Homo sapiens: one gene and its partner. The protein of the gene in region 1 interacts with the protein of each later gene in a biochemical or structural test. Each region holds a gene or a part of one and is shown on either strand. Other genes may lie near its edges. The genes, in order: AIFM1 and XIAP.

Evidence for each region.
Region 2: of the proteins of AIFM1 (region 1) and XIAP, one has a biochemical effect on the other in vitro, tested with the Homo sapiens proteins (one study listed by BioGRID).

What each region holds. Positions count from the first base shown.
Region 1 is NC_000023.11:130,134,524-130,138,342, reverse strand, and holds part of AIFM1 (apoptosis-inducing factor 1, mitochondrial isoform AIF precursor), read left to right. Parts: intron 1-302; exon of another isoform or gene 303-817; coding exon of another isoform or gene 818-825; exon of another isoform or gene 826-1,157; coding exon 1,158-1,265; intron 1,266-1,611; coding exon 1,612-1,700; intron 1,701-2,157; coding exon 2,158-2,298; intron 2,299-3,819. UniProt on the Homo sapiens protein: Functions both as NADH oxidoreductase and as regulator of apoptosis.
Region 2 is NC_000023.11:123,908,234-123,912,052, reverse strand, and holds part of XIAP (E3 ubiquitin-protein ligase XIAP), read right to left. Parts: 3' UTR 1-3,819.

The DNA of each region.
Region 1 (3,819 bases):
CAGGCGCCTGTAACCACGCCTGGCTAATTTTTTGTATTTTTAGTAGAGATGGGGTTTCACCGTGTTAGCCAGGACTGTCTCGATCTCCTGACCTGGTGATCCGCCCACCTTGGCCTCCCAAAGTGCTGGGATTACAGGCGTGAGCCACCACACCCAGCCTAATTAAGGTTTATATAGTGAAAAGCTAAACACTGAGATTAGTTCTGGTGAGGGATCCCTTGGTGACCAAAAAGCTGTCACCTGAGCAACTTAACAGCGATGCTTTTTTTTTTTTTTTTTTGAGATGGAGTTTCACTCTTGTTGCCCAGGCTGGAGTGCAATGGTGTGATCTCTGCTCACCACAACCTCCGCCTCCCAGGTTCAAGCGATTCTCCTGTCTCAGCCTCTGGAGTAGCTGGGATTACAGGCATGCACCACCACACCTGGCTAATTTTGTATTTTTGGTAGAGACAGGGTTTCTCCATGTTGGTCAGGCTGGTCTTGAACTCCCAACCTCAGGTGATCCACCCACCTCGGCCACCCAAAGTGCTGGGATTATAGGTGTGAGTCACTGCACCTGGCCAACAGCAATACTTTCTTTCCTTTCTTTTCCTCTACCCTCTATGCCAGGACTCCTTAGAAATAAAATATTAAGGAAAGTGAGTTATGAAGATGATAAGGGCAATGCAGACTACAGAATTATGGGTGTCTTTGAACTGCTGCTTCCTGTAAAATGCCAAAAACTTCTTTGGGCACATGATGGTTCCCAGCTTGAGAGATCTGTGAGCTCCAGTTGGAATGTTTCATGGCAACTAGTTTTCTTAATGTTCTTTTTCAGATATATGAAATCAGGGCATCTTTTCAGGAGGATGCTTCCTATTCAGAGGTTGCAAAGCACTTATGTAAGCCTTAGGTGACTGCATGGGTGGAAGTGCACAGAGTTCACCATCTGAAGCTTAATCTGGGGCCAGCAGTTCTGATACCTGTTGTATTTGCGTTACAAATGAACTTGAGCACCGAGGCCCTCATGCCCACTGTCCTGTAAGTGGGCGCTCGGCCTGGATTGCAGCTCTGCCCTGTCTGTAGTGAGGGCTGCCTGCTGCTCCTTTACTTCTCTTCCTGTATTCCTAGGATTGACTTTTGCTTCCTGCTGTAACTACTCTGTTTCTTCTTCCCAGCTCGAGCCTTGGGCACAGAAGTGATTCAACTCTTCCCCGAGAAAGGAAATATGGGAAAGATCCTCCCCGAATACCTCAGCAACTGGACCATGGAAAAAGTCAGACGAGGTAGAGAGACTGTTTCTATATGCTGCCACTCTATTTCCTTTGAGTGTGACCTAAGGCAAACTTCGCTTCTATAGGAACCCCCTTGACATAAGCCCTATCACCTGGCCTGTAAAATGTTTCCACCATTCTCCAGTCAGCTAAGTTCATCTAGGTGTTCTGAATCAGATGCCCCAAATTCCTGGAAGTGCTGAAAATGAACCATGGGTGTAGGTTCTTGCAGCTCTCCAAAACTGCCTGTGTACTGATAATTGGTTTTACCGTGGAGGAGACCGCTGGTCAGCTTTCCTACTTCCCATGAAAGTGATAGCCTTGTAGGCTCACTCTCAGGTCTTGTTTGCCTTTACAGAGGGGGTTAAGGTGATGCCCAATGCTATTGTGCAATCCGTTGGAGTCAGCAGTGGCAAGTTACTTATCAAGCTGAAAGACGGCAGGAAGGTAAGGAAGGAAAAGATAGTCTGCCAAGAGGCCTTCCAGTTCTCCACTCCCCTTGCCTCATTTTTACTCCTTCATTTGACACCAGTAGATTAGTTTTCCTGGCAGTTGCCATTAACCTGATATAATTTTCCGAATTAACCATCCCTCCATTAAAACAGAATGATGAGAGCCAGAGTAGGCTCCTGTGAACCACTTTCCCTTAGCCCCATTCTATCTGTCTCACAGAGTTTTGAGTCCTGGCTAGGGTGGCAGATTTCTGTTCGAATGACATGGGGGATGTGCATGGGATGGGGTGGTGGAGGCTTATGAAATAGAACTTAAAATCCATTTATCAGAGGTAAGTTAACCCATGATTTTTTAAAGTCCCAATTCTTAATGGCATGAAGGGCCATTGTTACGCCTGTAGGCATAAATGGAAACTGTGGTAATTGACTGAATTATTTCTTTTTTGCCTCAGGTAGAAACTGACCACATAGTGGCAGCTGTGGGCCTGGAGCCCAATGTTGAGTTGGCCAAGACTGGTGGCCTGGAAATAGACTCAGATTTTGGTGGCTTCCGGGTAAATGCAGAGCTACAAGCACGCTCTAACATCTGGGTGGTAAGTGTGCTACAGCATGACCAGGCATAATTCATTCTCCCTAGCCTGTGAACAAGTCTGCCCGGTGGTGTGCTAAAGCTCATCAACAGCCTAACCAAATAGGGTCAGAGTGTTTGGAGGCTGAGGGTACAGAATAGAAATGTGTGAACTGCTTGATTCAGAAGACCAGGTATGGCCTCATCTGCAAGCTAGTGGCAGATGAAATGAACAGTGTGCATGCCTGCAGGGGTAGAGCTCTTCCGGTTCTACTTATTGGCAGCAGCTACTGGCATAACCCCTGGTGGGCATGCACATAAGCCTTCAGATGGATCTGCTGTTCCCTTTGCTCAAACTTGAATCCGGAGGATGGAGGATGAAGCAATGTTATAACCTGTTCCCTAGAAAGGAAAATTACTCTGTTTTCATTTTCCTTGAGTACTATTTTTAGCTGTTTTTTACAATCTATTATGACATAAACAAGACTATAGTATGTAGGAACCATGAGGTAATTTCCCCATTGCTAGTTACAAGTGTATTGTGTTTGTTTATGGACTCTGCAACTAAGGACGTAGGTACCTTGGAGGAATTTTTTTCCCCCTCCAAACCTTGTTTTTTTTTTTTTTTTTAAAAAAAAAAAGATGTACTGGATCTTTTTAACCTGTTATAAAAGTAATACGTGGGCCAGGAGAAGTGGCTTACACCTGTAATCCCAGCACTTTGGGAGGCTGAGGCAGGTGGATCACTTGAGATCAGGAGTTTGAGACCAGCCTGGCTAACATGGTGAAACCCTGTCTCTCCTAAAAATACAAAAATTAGCCGGGTGTGGTGGCACAGGCCTGTAATCCCAGCTACTTGGGAGGCTGAGTGAGGCAGGAGAATCACTTGAACTAAGGAGGCAGAGGCTGCAGTGAGTGGAGATCATGCCACTGCCCTCCAGCCTGGGCAACAACAGAGCAAGACTCAGTCTCAAAAAAAAAAAAAAAGTAATATGTGGTCAATGTAGAAGACAGACAAGAAGGAGAGAGGAGAGGAAAGTCACCTGCAGCAACCATTAATATTTTGGTGTATTTCCTTCCCTGTGTTTCCTTGCATGTAGGTTTTATTGTTGGTTTGTTTTATTCGTGGCAAGCATACTATATATAATATTCTGCTCTTTTCCACTTAACACCATAAATGTAAGCATTTTCTATGTTGCTTCAGACTTTGTAAACAGTTTAATGACTATATATTCCATTAAGCGAATTTCACAGTTTACGGTTGCTCACTCGTTGGATTTTTAGGTTGCTTTGGGGGAGTCTAAATAGCCACAAAGATGAACAAAGGGTTAGAGAGCTCAAATGCCACATCCTTCATGAAGCTGGTCCAGTTCACCCCCGGCTGGAGGTTCTCGCCCTCTGCTTGAAATACTTGACTCCTTTAATCTGTACCTCTCATATGGCACACTACTGTTTACATTGCTCTGTAGTTGTGAGCAAGGCTGTATCTTTCTGTACTAGGTTGTATGCTCCTCATAGTCAAGGTCCATGTCAGTTTTGTCTCAGC
Region 2 (3,819 bases), 6.2 Mb from region 1:
TAAACATTTGGACCTTTCAAGAAAGGTAGCTTGGTGAAGTTTTTCACCTTCAAACTATGTCCCAGTCAGGGCTCTGCTACTAATTAGCTATAATCTTTGCACAAATTACATCACCTTTGAGTCTCAGTTGCCTCACCTGTAAAATGAAAGAACTGGATACTCTCTAAGGTCACTTCCAGCCCTGTCATTCTATAACTCTGTTATGCTGAGGAAGAAATTCACATTGTGTTAACTGTATGAGTCAAACTGAAAATGATTATTGAAGTGGGAAAAAGCCAATTGCTTCTCTTAGAAAGCTCAACTAAATTTGAGAAGAATAATCTTTTCAATTTTTTAAGAATTTAAATATTTTTAAGGGTTTGACCTATTTATTTAGAGATGGGGTCTCACTCTGTCACCCAGACTGGAGTACAGTGGCACAATCATAGCTCACTGCTGCCTCAAATTCATGGGCTCAAGTGATCCTCCTGCCTCTGCCTCCAGAGTAGCTGCGACTATGGGCATGTGCCACCACGCCTGGCTAACATTTGTATTGACCTATTTATTTATTGTGATTTATATCTTTTTTTTTTTTTGAGACAGAGTTTTGCTCTTGTTGCCCAGGCTGGAGTGCAATGGCACGATCTTCGCTCACCACAACCTCCGCCTCCTGGGTTCAAGCGATTCTCCTGCCTCAGCCTCCCAAGTAGCTGGGATTACAGGCATGAGCCACCACGCCCAGCTAATTTTGTATTTTTAGTAGAGACGGGGTTTCTCCATGTTGGTCAGGCTGGTCTCGACCTCCCGACCTCAGGTGATCTGCCCGCCTCGGCCTCCCAAAGTGCTGGGATTACAGGCATGAGCCACCGCGCCCAGCTGATTTATATCTTATCTATGAGAAACACCAAAAACTATGAGTAAGCATCACTGAGTTATCATGTAAGAATTTTTTCTAAGTTTTAGCCCAAATTTCCAGGTCAAGACAAACCCACAGAGAGGTAAAAGGGTATTAGGATGGGAGTTCATATTTACAGCAGGAACTTTACATACATGGTCTCCTTGAGCTCTTGCAACCTTGTAAGATAAGTATTATTTTCCTTTCACAGATGAATAAACTGCTACCCTTTTTTTAACAAGTAGATTTGACTAAAAAGAACTATGTCAAATATTGCTTCCCATTTTCTTATTTCTTTTTTTTTTTTTTTTGAGACAGAGTCTTGCTCTGTTGCCCAGGCTGGAGTGCAGTGGCGAGATCTCGGCTCACTGCAAGCTCTGCCTCCCGGGTTCACACCATTCTCCTGCCTCAGCCTCCCGAGTAGCTGGGACTACAGGCGCCCGCCACCACGCCCGGCTAATTTTCTGTTTTTTAGTAGAGACGGGGTTTCACCGTGTTAGCCAGGATGGTCTCGATCTCCTGACCTCGTGATCCACCTGCCTCAGCCTCCCAAAGTGCTGGGATTACAGGCGTGAGCCACTGAGCCCAGCCCCATTTTATTTCATTTCTCTAACAGCAATGATATATATACATCCCATAGTATATCCTACTGATATACTAGCCCCTTTCCCCATTCAACACCTGTGTAATCAGGAAATAAAACAATGATTCGGGTTTAAAGGGTATATCATGTGAAACTAATGCTGGGGCGGTAGTCTCCATTCATAGTTCAAAATACAAATTTTATCCACTAAAATGGAAACACAAAAAACAACTACTGAAATGTAAATAATATAACAACAAAAATAACAAAATATCATAATACACAGGGCCAAATCACATTATATACACTCACTACACCCACTCTACCCTACCTTAGCCCGTAATCAAAGGGACAGGGGAAAAAACCAAATGTAGCAGGAAAGGCAATATAAAGCTATTAATTAATTAACTGGAATTTAGTTTGTAAATGCTAAAACCAGTTCTCAAAAATTAAGACAATGCTTTTGATCAGCAGACTAAATTATTACAAATAAAGATAAGTACTTATTGCAAAACTACTTGAATCTTTGCATGACTAAAATGTAAAATAAGTGGTGACTTGAAATCCTAGAGTGAACTTTATACAGAAAAGGAATAGTCTACATGTAGACACTGAGAACTCTTGGGAGGGGGAAAAGATTTGGATATGGCTATAGTTTTGACTTTGCAAATGATCAATTTTTGCGGAATTAGATGGAAAAGATCCGGTGCTTTTTATAGTTCAAACACAGACAAATGCTGTTAAGTCTCCAAAAATTTGATTAGAAGTTGGAGTGCTGAGTGATTTTAAGAACCTGAAGCAACAGCATTTCTAAACAATTCTTAAAATAAACTTGTTAGCCACATCAGCGTTGTGCATTAAATTTCACAACTCATGGAGAGGAAGAAAAAAAGTCTTGCTTAACTCTAAACATACAAGTTTTAGAAGAATTTTAATGAAGTGCGGCTCCCAGAACAGGAAAAGCCTTATGTTAAAACAATTCAGTCCTTGAGTCCTTGGCTAACAACTAGATTGAACTACCTACCTGACTTGGAAGTGAAGTGTCCTGGAAAACATATTTTAAAAATTTTAACACTTTTCTCCCCTTGTAGAAAACTTTAAATTTAAAGTCTAGACTATACAGACCAAATTCAAGTTAATGACTATATAACCAAACTAAGTGGCAGACAGTGCAAAGGTGAAGAACTGAGGATTTACATACTAAAACAGAAACAGGGCAGTCATTATTTAATTTTTAAAACTCTCATTTAAATTTGCAATGTTTTAGCCGGGCGTGGTGGCTCAAGCCTGTAATCCCAGCACTTTGGGAGGGCAAGGCGAGTGGATCTCTTGAGGTCAGGAGTTTGATACCAGCCTGGCCAACATGGTGAAACCCCGTCTCTACTAAAAATAAAAAAAAATTAGTCGGGCATGGTGGCACCTGCCTGTAATTCCAGCTACTCAGGAAGCTGAGGCACGAGAATCGCTTGAACCCAGAAGGCGGAGGTTGCAGTGAGCAGAGATCACTCCACTGCACTCCAGCCTGGGTGACAAGCAAGACTCCATCTCAAAAAGAAAATTAAATAAATAAAATAAATTTGCAATGTTTTAAATGAATATCACTTAAAGTAGTAATCAACAGAAGTTAGGAGAACATAACAATACTCTTTCTCTTAGAAAGTACAACAAAAATATAATTTTTTACAGTTTTACTCTCAAACTTTCCTCTGTAGTAACATGCCTTACTCACCTCTACAATAGGTTTGTTGTGAGAATCTTGTAATGTAAACCCTGGACGTTCTATGAAGCATTTTTAAACTTCTAGTTTATACCCTACTGATTCTTATTCAAGTGTTTTTTAAAAAATATTTAAACAACTATTCTTCTTTTCTTGCCAATATTTTTATAATTTCCAAGAGGTTTTAAGGATCTTGAGAGAACATTTATTTCAGAAGTATCTACTACTATTACTAGCCAAGAAAACAAATGTAGGTAGAGGAAAGACTTAACATTTTGTCCTATATACATCTTAATCATCCTAACGGTAAAAACTCACATGAAACTTTAAGATACAAGATGATATGAGAATCTCAACATGGAAAGCTGTCACTATAACTACAAGCAGTGTACAAACATGCTTCTACTTTTACCTACATAAGCTGACAGATGTTTAAAATACTGAGTTAACAAAGATCTTTTAGTAAAGTGACTTAGGCAGGCTTAAACTAGCAAGGATTAAGGATGAATCCTTACTAATTAATTGGAAGATCTGAGACATATTTTATATTTCATTTTACAAAATCAGAAATACTTATTTTGAAACAAGATAAGACATGGTCTACCTGTCAAAAAACTACCACTCAGAAATATTTTTCATCCACAA